Regions from separate parts of the Homo sapiens genome. Here all the other regions are linked to region 2. Evidence: fine-mapped expression QTL. A gene starts in region 2. Each other region holds a variant in brackets. All regions are shown on one strand. Distances are between the middles of the regions. Region 1 overlaps DCAF5 (DDB1 and CUL4 associated factor 5). Region 2 holds the start of DCAF5 (DDB1 and CUL4 associated factor 5). Region 3 has its middle 70 kb from the start of RAD51B-AS1.

Evidence for each region.
Region 1: its variant is fine-mapped to the expression of DCAF5 in whole blood (INTERVAL, PIP above 0.99).
Region 3: its variant is fine-mapped to the expression of DCAF5 in thyroid (GTEx, PIP above 0.99).

The regions. Positions count from the first base shown.
Region 1 is chr14:69,052,786-69,055,285 of GRCh38, forward strand. DCAF5 (DDB1 and CUL4 associated factor 5) reads right to left here. Exons shown (of 9, transcript NM_003861.3): 9 at 1-2,500. The coding sequence ends at 1,072. Among named protein-coding and RNA genes, the nearest start is that of ACTN1-DT, 74 kb to the left of the region's middle. RefSeq lists an enhancer at 2,112-2,500. The variant AT/A (reference allele first, on the strand shown) is at 1,016.
Region 2 is chr14:69,152,029-69,154,837 of GRCh38, forward strand. It overlaps DCAF5 (DDB1 and CUL4 associated factor 5), which reads right to left and starts at 1,091. Exons shown (of 9, transcript NM_003861.3): 1 at 737-1,091. The coding sequence starts at 950. RefSeq lists silencers at 26-75, 896-1,535.
Region 3 is chr14:68,613,813-68,616,661 of GRCh38, forward strand. It overlaps a transcript of RAD51B not described here. Among named protein-coding and RNA genes, the nearest start is that of RAD51B-AS1, 70 kb to the right of the region's middle. The variant C/A (reference allele first, on the strand shown) is at 1,211.

The DNA of each region.
Region 1 (2,500 bases), 99 kb before region 2:
TCTATCAACTGCAAGTCTGAGGGAAGATGCCAGTCCCACCAATTCTGACCAATGGTTCTGGGTTGAGTTAAATGAATATAGTACCACATTCTGCTCCTCACTAAGCTTCTTCGTTAACACACCTATAACAACTACTTTAGTAGCCTGAGCACAAAGCTCTGGAAAGCTGTCTTTGCCCTTCTTTCACTATGCCTCGATCGATCATGGGAGCCAAGGAAGCACCTGCTGGCCTTGTGAGTGCCTCTTAGGATCTAGCACCTAACTGGTTAAAGTCTGTTATCCATGACTAGCTCTATTTTATGGCCTTCATACAGTACATGTTGCAGCACTGCTCAATTTGCAAACAGTGAAATTTATCAGGAATCTATATTCTCTTGAATCTGATCTTAAGTGCTAAACCTCTCATTAGCATTAAAAATTCTTTTTTATAGTATGTCCACATTAAATGCTCAATAAAGAAGTGTTACTTAGAGAAAACATGGAAGATTTCTTTAAGAAAGGAACCATGCTTTCCTCTCCAGCGCAGCCAATGGGCTGAAGGCCTGTTTCCATTCTCCATTCTTCCAGCATAAATCTACAACTCACTGGCAGCACAACCTGATTTAACAGGCACCCATCATCCAGACCAGAACACCTATGGCATGTAAACAGGGTGAGATGGCAAAAAGTACAAATTCATAGGTCCTTTCTGATGGAGAACTAAAAGGAAGGTCTTATGAGACAATAAGCGCACACGTGCCATTGTGCGTACACAAGAACAAGTCGAACGTCTCAACAAAGATTTACTTCCACAGAGCCTTGCGCGGCACACTACGCTCACGTCTCACTAGAAAGGAGTCACTTGGGTTATTTTTTTTTCCCCTTTCTTAACACAGCACAAGCCAATGGCCAGCTAGACATTCAGACCCGTTGTTGAATGTTGGATAGAAGGGAGCAGCATCAGACACAAAATTTCAGGCCCTGGTTTCATGTGCCTTTAATACTTGTTTTTCCTTTCCTCTGTATTCACTAAACA[AT/A]TTTTTTTTTTTTGTAAGGCTACTTTTGTAGCTTTTTGTTTTCCCTTTGTATTTATCATGTTTTTAATTTCTTCTCTGAGGAGGAATTCTCTGAATCTGTATCTTCCAATTCAATTCGTTGCCTTTTGAGGCCACTGTGGCCATGAACAGCCCTGCTACTATCTGTGGCTGGGGTGTCAGTGGGGTCCTCTCTTGTTCCAGCATTGGGGGTCTCACAGGCCATTTCAGACCCGCAACAATCTTTGTGTAGGAGTGTCCCTGTCAGGGACGAGTTATCACGGTCAGTGTCTGAGTGTCCTGGGGAAGAGTAGGCCACCACCTCCAGCTCCCCCAAGTTCTGCCCGTTATTGTGAGGGTGAGGGGGACGAGGGTGTAAGCGTCCATTGTTGTGGTTGGCACAGATGGTTTCGAGGCTCCTCTCCTCACTGTCATCAGACTGGGTCCTGGGACAGTTGCCAGACCCGCTGTTGAGAGTGGAGCCAGATGCCTTGGGGACAGGAGGAGAAGGCGGCTCCTCAGCCCGACTGCTCAGGGCCTTTCCATTGAGCTTCTTGGTTTCAAAAGGGTGCTCTACAGAGCCGCTATTGCCAGTGTCCTGAGAGGTACCCTCTGGCACCTCTGCCCAAGCATGGCTGCTGTGCTCATGGCCTGGGCCATTGCTGGGAGTTCTAGGAGTCTCTTCTTTAAAAGTGTCCTTGCTGCAGCCTTCAGGTGGCAGGTCCTGGTTCCTCTGGGCCATTGCTATGTTTAGACAGGCTTCCTTACTGGAAGAAGGGGCTGGGTTGTCTTTGTGGCTGGTTCCTGCTCTCCCTTCATCTGCCTCCCCGGTCACCAAGGAGGTCTCTCCATCTTTGTTATTTGAGTAGGAGATATAAGAGTAGCGGAGCCACTTGTAAGCTTTATAAATTTTTCGCTCAACTGATTCTATGTCAGAAGTTGGTGATGCCCGGCTTGGTTGAATCTCTAGCGTGGAAGTGCTCCGCTCAGGGGACGAGGTTGGGGAGGAGGAGAGGTCATCCACTTTGATCTGGGGGTAATCATAGTTGTCTTCTCCAATGTAAGTGTTGGTGGGCTTGATTGGGGCACTGGGCTTGTCTTCTCGGGTTGTCTTCTGTCGGCGCCGCATGGCATTCCGCTGCCAGGTAGAGGCTCGGCGTTCATTCAGCTCCTCCTCATCCTCAGAGCTGCTAGAGCTGCTGGAACTGCTGGATTCATCTTCGGGGCTGGGTGACCGTGGCCGGGGAAAGAGATCTGTGTCTAGTTCCACCTCACAGACATTCTCCTCAGAATCGGACTCATTGGAAAGGGCCAGGAGGCGTTTGTCTTGGTAGCGCCGCAGAGCAGACAGACGCTGCTGGCGAGAGGCTGCATCCTCACACGTGGGTGTTGGTGGAGTTGAGGCTACTGTGTTTGTGGTGGTGACCCGCAGGGGCCCCAGGTGGAAGGCGTTGTCGGCAGACTCATCTACTGTGGGAGGCGGGGAG
Region 2 (2,809 bases):
CACCCTACCGCCTGCCTCGCAAGTTGCGCATTCAAGTTCAGGCTGGTGCCCTTTAGCCTCCACAGCCCTCGCCACTCTCGAAACTGTATTAAAAACAAGACGCAGAAGAGGCCACAACCGAACGAAAGGCGATGGTGCTGGGCCTCTAAGAGCGCCGAGGGGGGCGGCCCACAGCGACCCTACCGCCCCAGTCACTTCCCCTCTGCAGACCCCGCCAGCCCCCGGGTCGCAGCCCCCGGCCCCTCGGCGTCCGGGTCTGTCACCGCCCGCTTCCCAGCCCCAAGACCCCTTTTCCTTAACGCCGGCGACGGGGGCTTCAGCTCCCCCTTGCCTCCGGCGCTCCTCGGCCTCCTCACCCTCCACATCCCCAAAATGCCCCCAGCACCTTTTAAAGTACGCGGAGGAAGAGTTTGCCGTCAAACTTTGTAGAGCGGTAACCTCGCCCCCCTCCCCGACCTACACTTTCAGGGCAGGCATCAGGAGAGATCACTTTGCACTTGGGATAAAGCGAATTAAGGAGCTGTCAACCATTTTAGGTCTTTTTTATAGAAGACATCCTCTCCTTCCCCTCCCCCTGCAATGGTTTTAATTTGACACCAAACCTTCCCACCGCAGAAGGGGGTAGAGAAAGGGAGGGGGTGGGGACAGAGGGCAGGAGGAGGGTGACGGGGGAGAGCGAGAGGGGGAGGCTGGGAGGGTGCGGGGAGGCGCGGGGAGGGGAAGGGGGTTGATTTACCTGAGACCAGCCACTGGCCTCCATTGTTGGAGAATTCAATGGCATTGACACAGCCGAAGTGGCCGAGGAGGTCCTTCTTGTAGAGGTTTCTGCAGCCCCGCAGGCGTCTCCTCTGAAAGTCCTGAGTGAGCAGGGGGTCCCCATGCAAGCCCCGCTGGGACAAGAAGCCCACCACTGACCTCATGCTGCCCCCCAGGCCAGCTCTCCTCTTCATGCTGGAACCGCCGCCGCCGCCGCTCGCGCCGCCGCCCCTCCCTCGGCCTCACGCGCGGCCGCTGCTCCCCCCACCCGGCCCTCCCCCCGCGCTGCGATCCGGATGGTTCTTTAACCAGCCATGGCAGGCAGAGCGAGGTGTGCAGACACTCGGCGGCGTTCGCGGCTTCCTGACGGTCCCCTCCCTCTCCTTCCCCCCGAGGCTCCTCCCTCTGCCTCTCCGCCTCCTCCAGCAGCTGATCCTCAGCTGCCGCCGCGCTTCCGCGATGCGCGGCCCTTCCGCCGGCTGCGGGGCCCCGAGAACGCGGCGTCGGCGCCCCTCCCCTCCGCGGGGGGCTGGCCGGAAGAACGCGGGCGGCCGGCCCGGAGACCACGGGCGCCGGCTGCTTTCCCAGTTGAGCCGCTTCCCGCCTGGGGACCTGGGTGGCGCCGGGCGGAGACCCCTCTGCACCCCAGCGCCCCGCACTCCGCGGAGTTGAATGCGCGTAACAATCCGAGTGGCCGCCGGGCTTTGGCTCGCCTTCCTCCCGCGGGGACCCGCGGGCCGGCTGCTGCCCGGAGGCCAGCGCCCGTACGAGTTCGGGGAAAATGCGGCTGGAGTGGGGGAAGGTGCGGGCGGGGGCTCCGGCCCTCCTTCCTCTGCTGGCCTCTGCCTTGGGCAGTCCGGCCCTGCCCGAGGCGGGGGAACCGGGAGGTAGGGCCGCACACTTGGAGGAACGTTGCCTGGGGGTTTTGTTCGCGCACCCGCCCCTTCCCCTCTCCCGGTAAATGTTTAACACCACCGCTCATCCCCAAGTCCAGTTCTCTAACTCTTCCTTCCTCCGGTCCTTTAGTTGAAAAAGGCTAAATTGTTCCGTCTGGCAGATTAGAGTGGTACATGGGGGGAAAGAGAAAGGGATAAAGAAGTAGGAAGAAAATTGCCAAAACCGAGTTGATGAAGTCCCGAGAAGCACGAGGTACTTCTCTCCGTTCCAGATAAATTTGCACGACACAAGAAGCGTGATTTGAAACTAACGATATATGTTATTTAATTGGGTTCGGTGAGCTCCTCTTAAAGGTCTCGAGTGGGGAGCACTGAGGTTGGACAGCTGTTAACCAGCAGCTGCGCTCCAGGCCAGAAGTGGCTGCACTTCAGTAGGATGGGAGTCACCGCGTTGACCCTAGTGGGTGTTAAATGCTTTGGAATTCTACCAGATACAGTTAAAAGTCCCCTTTTCGATGTATTATAGTACTTTTCCTGGAAGCTATCCTCTGTCATTAAGTGGTAATAAGCTACTGAAATAGGCACTTGTCAGTTTTGCCCTTTCAAGTTAGCAGGAATTACATCCTCTGGACCAGAGATGGCACAGGAGCAGTTGAGTAGAATCATCATTGAAAGATGGGCTGTACATCTCTGATCTGGGGAAAATAATAATAATTTTTTTTAAAAAAAAAGATCGGCTGAACATGGAAGAGGTTTACCCGTCAAACAAAATTATTTACTTCTACTTTTTGTTCAGTGACAATACGATTAATCGTACTAATAACAAATATGCAAATGTTTCATATAAAAGTACATATTCTAGCAAACATTACTAAACAGAAACCAAATTCCATCAGAACTTGGGGAAAAGGGCAAAAAATAAATAAATTTTTAAAAGAAAGAAATCAAATTCCAAAAATGTGAATTTTAATGGAATATTGTTCCCCTAAATAGGAAACTATGTGGTACTTAAAAGGTTTTATCCTCAGGATGCCTTCTAATAATCCTTTGTGTTTATTCATTATAATCACCACCTAAAAATTAGTAGCAGTATACCAGCTTTATTAAAGATGTATAGCACCAAACATCCTTCTGTCATTGCAATGTCAAAATGTGTA
Region 3 (2,849 bases), 540 kb before region 2:
GCCCATTTCTCCATAACTTGCTCAGAAGCACATTTTAGTTGTTTTAAGAATGACTCGATTTTTGGAGTCAGAGAGGTTGGGGCTAGAGTTTAGGGCCTGCTGTTGTGTGGCCATTCAGAACGCCCAATTTAAATCTAAATGCGTAAAATCAAAAGAGTGGTGAATGTGAACATGCTTTTTTATAAACTGTAAAGTGCCTCACTGTGATCCTTTATTCTTTCAATTCAGCCTATGAGTGCAAGTTAGCAATAGACTTTAAAGAACTCATACTGCAGGAAAGTAAGCATAGATACTAAAATACAAAATTCAACCTCTACTGCCTATGACACGATTTTTCAGGCCTCAGAGGCAGCCTGGTAGCAACCACAGCTAAGAACAAAGGTCCTAAGAGCTGGACTTTTTGAAAAAATAGATTCTGTAGCCTTTGTAGGGAGGAGTTGGTCTGAGTTGAACCATATTGCTGAGAAGAGTCTCTCATTAAGCCTTTATCCATTATCAACACTGGGGCATAAAATCATTTATACCAAATACTTATTTTTTTAATTGAGATATAATTGACATACCATAAAATTCACCCTCTTAAAGTGTACAATTCCATGATTTTTAGTATATTCACAAAATTGTGCAATTATCACCATTATCTAGTTCCGAATATTTTCATCACCCCCAAAAGAGTCTCCATATGCATTGGCAGTCACTCCCCATTCCTCCTTCCCCTTTCCTCTGGCAACCACTATTCTACTATCCATCTCTATGGATTTGCTTATTCTGGACATTTCATATAAATGGAATTATACAATATGTGACCTTTTGTGTTTGGCTTCTTTCAGTGAGCATAGTGTTTTCAAGGTTCATCCATGTTGTAGCATGTATTGGAATGTCATTTGTTTTCATAGCTGAATAATATTCCATGGTATGGATAAACCACATTTTGTTTATCTGTTCATCAGTTGATGCACATTTGAGTTGTTTCCACTTTCTGGCTAAAATGAATAATGCTGCTATGAACATTCATATACAGTGTGTGTGGACATGGATTTTCAATACTCTTGGGTACATACCTAGGAGTAGAAATGCTAGTCATATGAGCAATTGACCTAGCTTTCTTGGAGTGCACTGGCATGATCTCAGCTCACTGCAACCTCCGCCTCCTGGGTTCAAGCGATTCTCCTGCCTCAGCCTCCCAAGTAGCTGGGACTACAGCTGCATG[C/A]CACCAGGCCCAGCTAATTTTTGTATTTTTGGTAGAGATGGGATTTCACCATGTTGGCCAAGATGGTCTCGATCTCTTGACCTTGTGATCCACCCGCCTTGGCCTCCCAAAGTGCTGGGATCATCTGTATCCTTACTGGTTTACTGATTTTTCTGACTATTTGTTTTATTAATTCTTGAGAGAGGAATGATGAAATGTATATATTCAAACTATGACTGTGGTTTTGTCTATTTCCTCTTTAACTTTTGTCAGTTTTTGATTCATATATTATGAAGTTCTGTTAGCAGGTACAGAAACATTTAGAATTGTTAAATCTTCTTAAATTTTTCTTTTTTTTTTTTGAGACGGAGTCTCGCTCTGTCGCCCAGGCTGGAGTGCAGTGGCGTGATATCTGCTCACTGCAAGCTCTGCCTCCCGGGTTCACACCATTCTCCTGCTTCAGCCTCCCGAGTAGCTGGGACTACAGGCGTCCACCACAACGCCCAGCTAATTTTTTGTATTTTTATTAGAGATGGGGTTTCACTGTGTTAGCCAGGATGGTCTCGATGTCCTGACCTCATGATCTGCCTGCCTCAGCCTCCCAAAGTGCTGGGATTACAGGCGTGAGCCACTGCACCTGGCTTAAATTTTCCTTTTTGTCACTATGAAATTGTCTCTCTTTATCTCTGGTGCTATTCCTTGTCCTAAAGTCTTCTTTTTTTATTATTAATATAGCTACTCCAGCTCTCTTGTGATAAGCATTGCACAGCATATCTTTTTTCATTCTTTTACTTTTAAACTATTTGTGTTTTTATATTTAAAATGAATTTCTTGCTTTTTAAATCCAGTCTGATAGTGCCTGACCTTTAATTGGGGTATTTGGACCATTTGCATTTAATTACAAGTACATGTAACATACATGTTTGGTTTAGGTATGTCATCTTACTATTTGTTTTCTACTCATTCCATCTGTTCTTTGTTACCTTTTGCATCTTTCCTTGCCTTCTTTTGAAGTGAGGGTTCTTTTTTGTTATTTCATTTTATCTAGACCATTGACTTTTAGCTACATGCTCTTGTCCTTTGTGCTATTGCTGCTATAAATTTTATTTCTGCATATGTTATGAACTCTACAGTACTTTATTATTTTTGCTTTAATATTTTAAAGAAATTTTTAATGAAAAATTTTAATATTTATCCTCATGTTTCCCATTTCTGGTGCTCTTCATTCTTTTGTGTAGATCCAAGTATTATTTTCCTTCTTTGTAAAAAACTTATGTTAACATTTCTTTAGGGTAGATCTGCTGATGGTGAATTGTCTAAGCTTTCATTTATCTCAAAAAGTCTTCATTATATCGCTGGATACAGAATTTGATTTGTGTATCATTCAGTATATCAAAGAAAGTATTCCATTGTCTTCTGGCTTGCATTGTTTTGATCAGAAGTCTGCAGTATTTCCTATACTCTCTATGACACTATAAAATACAGCTTTTTTCAGACTACTTTTAAGATTTTCTCTTTATTACTAATTTTAGTAATTTATTATGATGTACTTTGGTATGATGGTGTGATTTCCCTTGCTTATTTTGATTGGGGTTCATTGTGATTCCTGGATCTGTGGTATTTATAGTTTTTAACAAATTTGGAAAATTTTCAGCCTTGA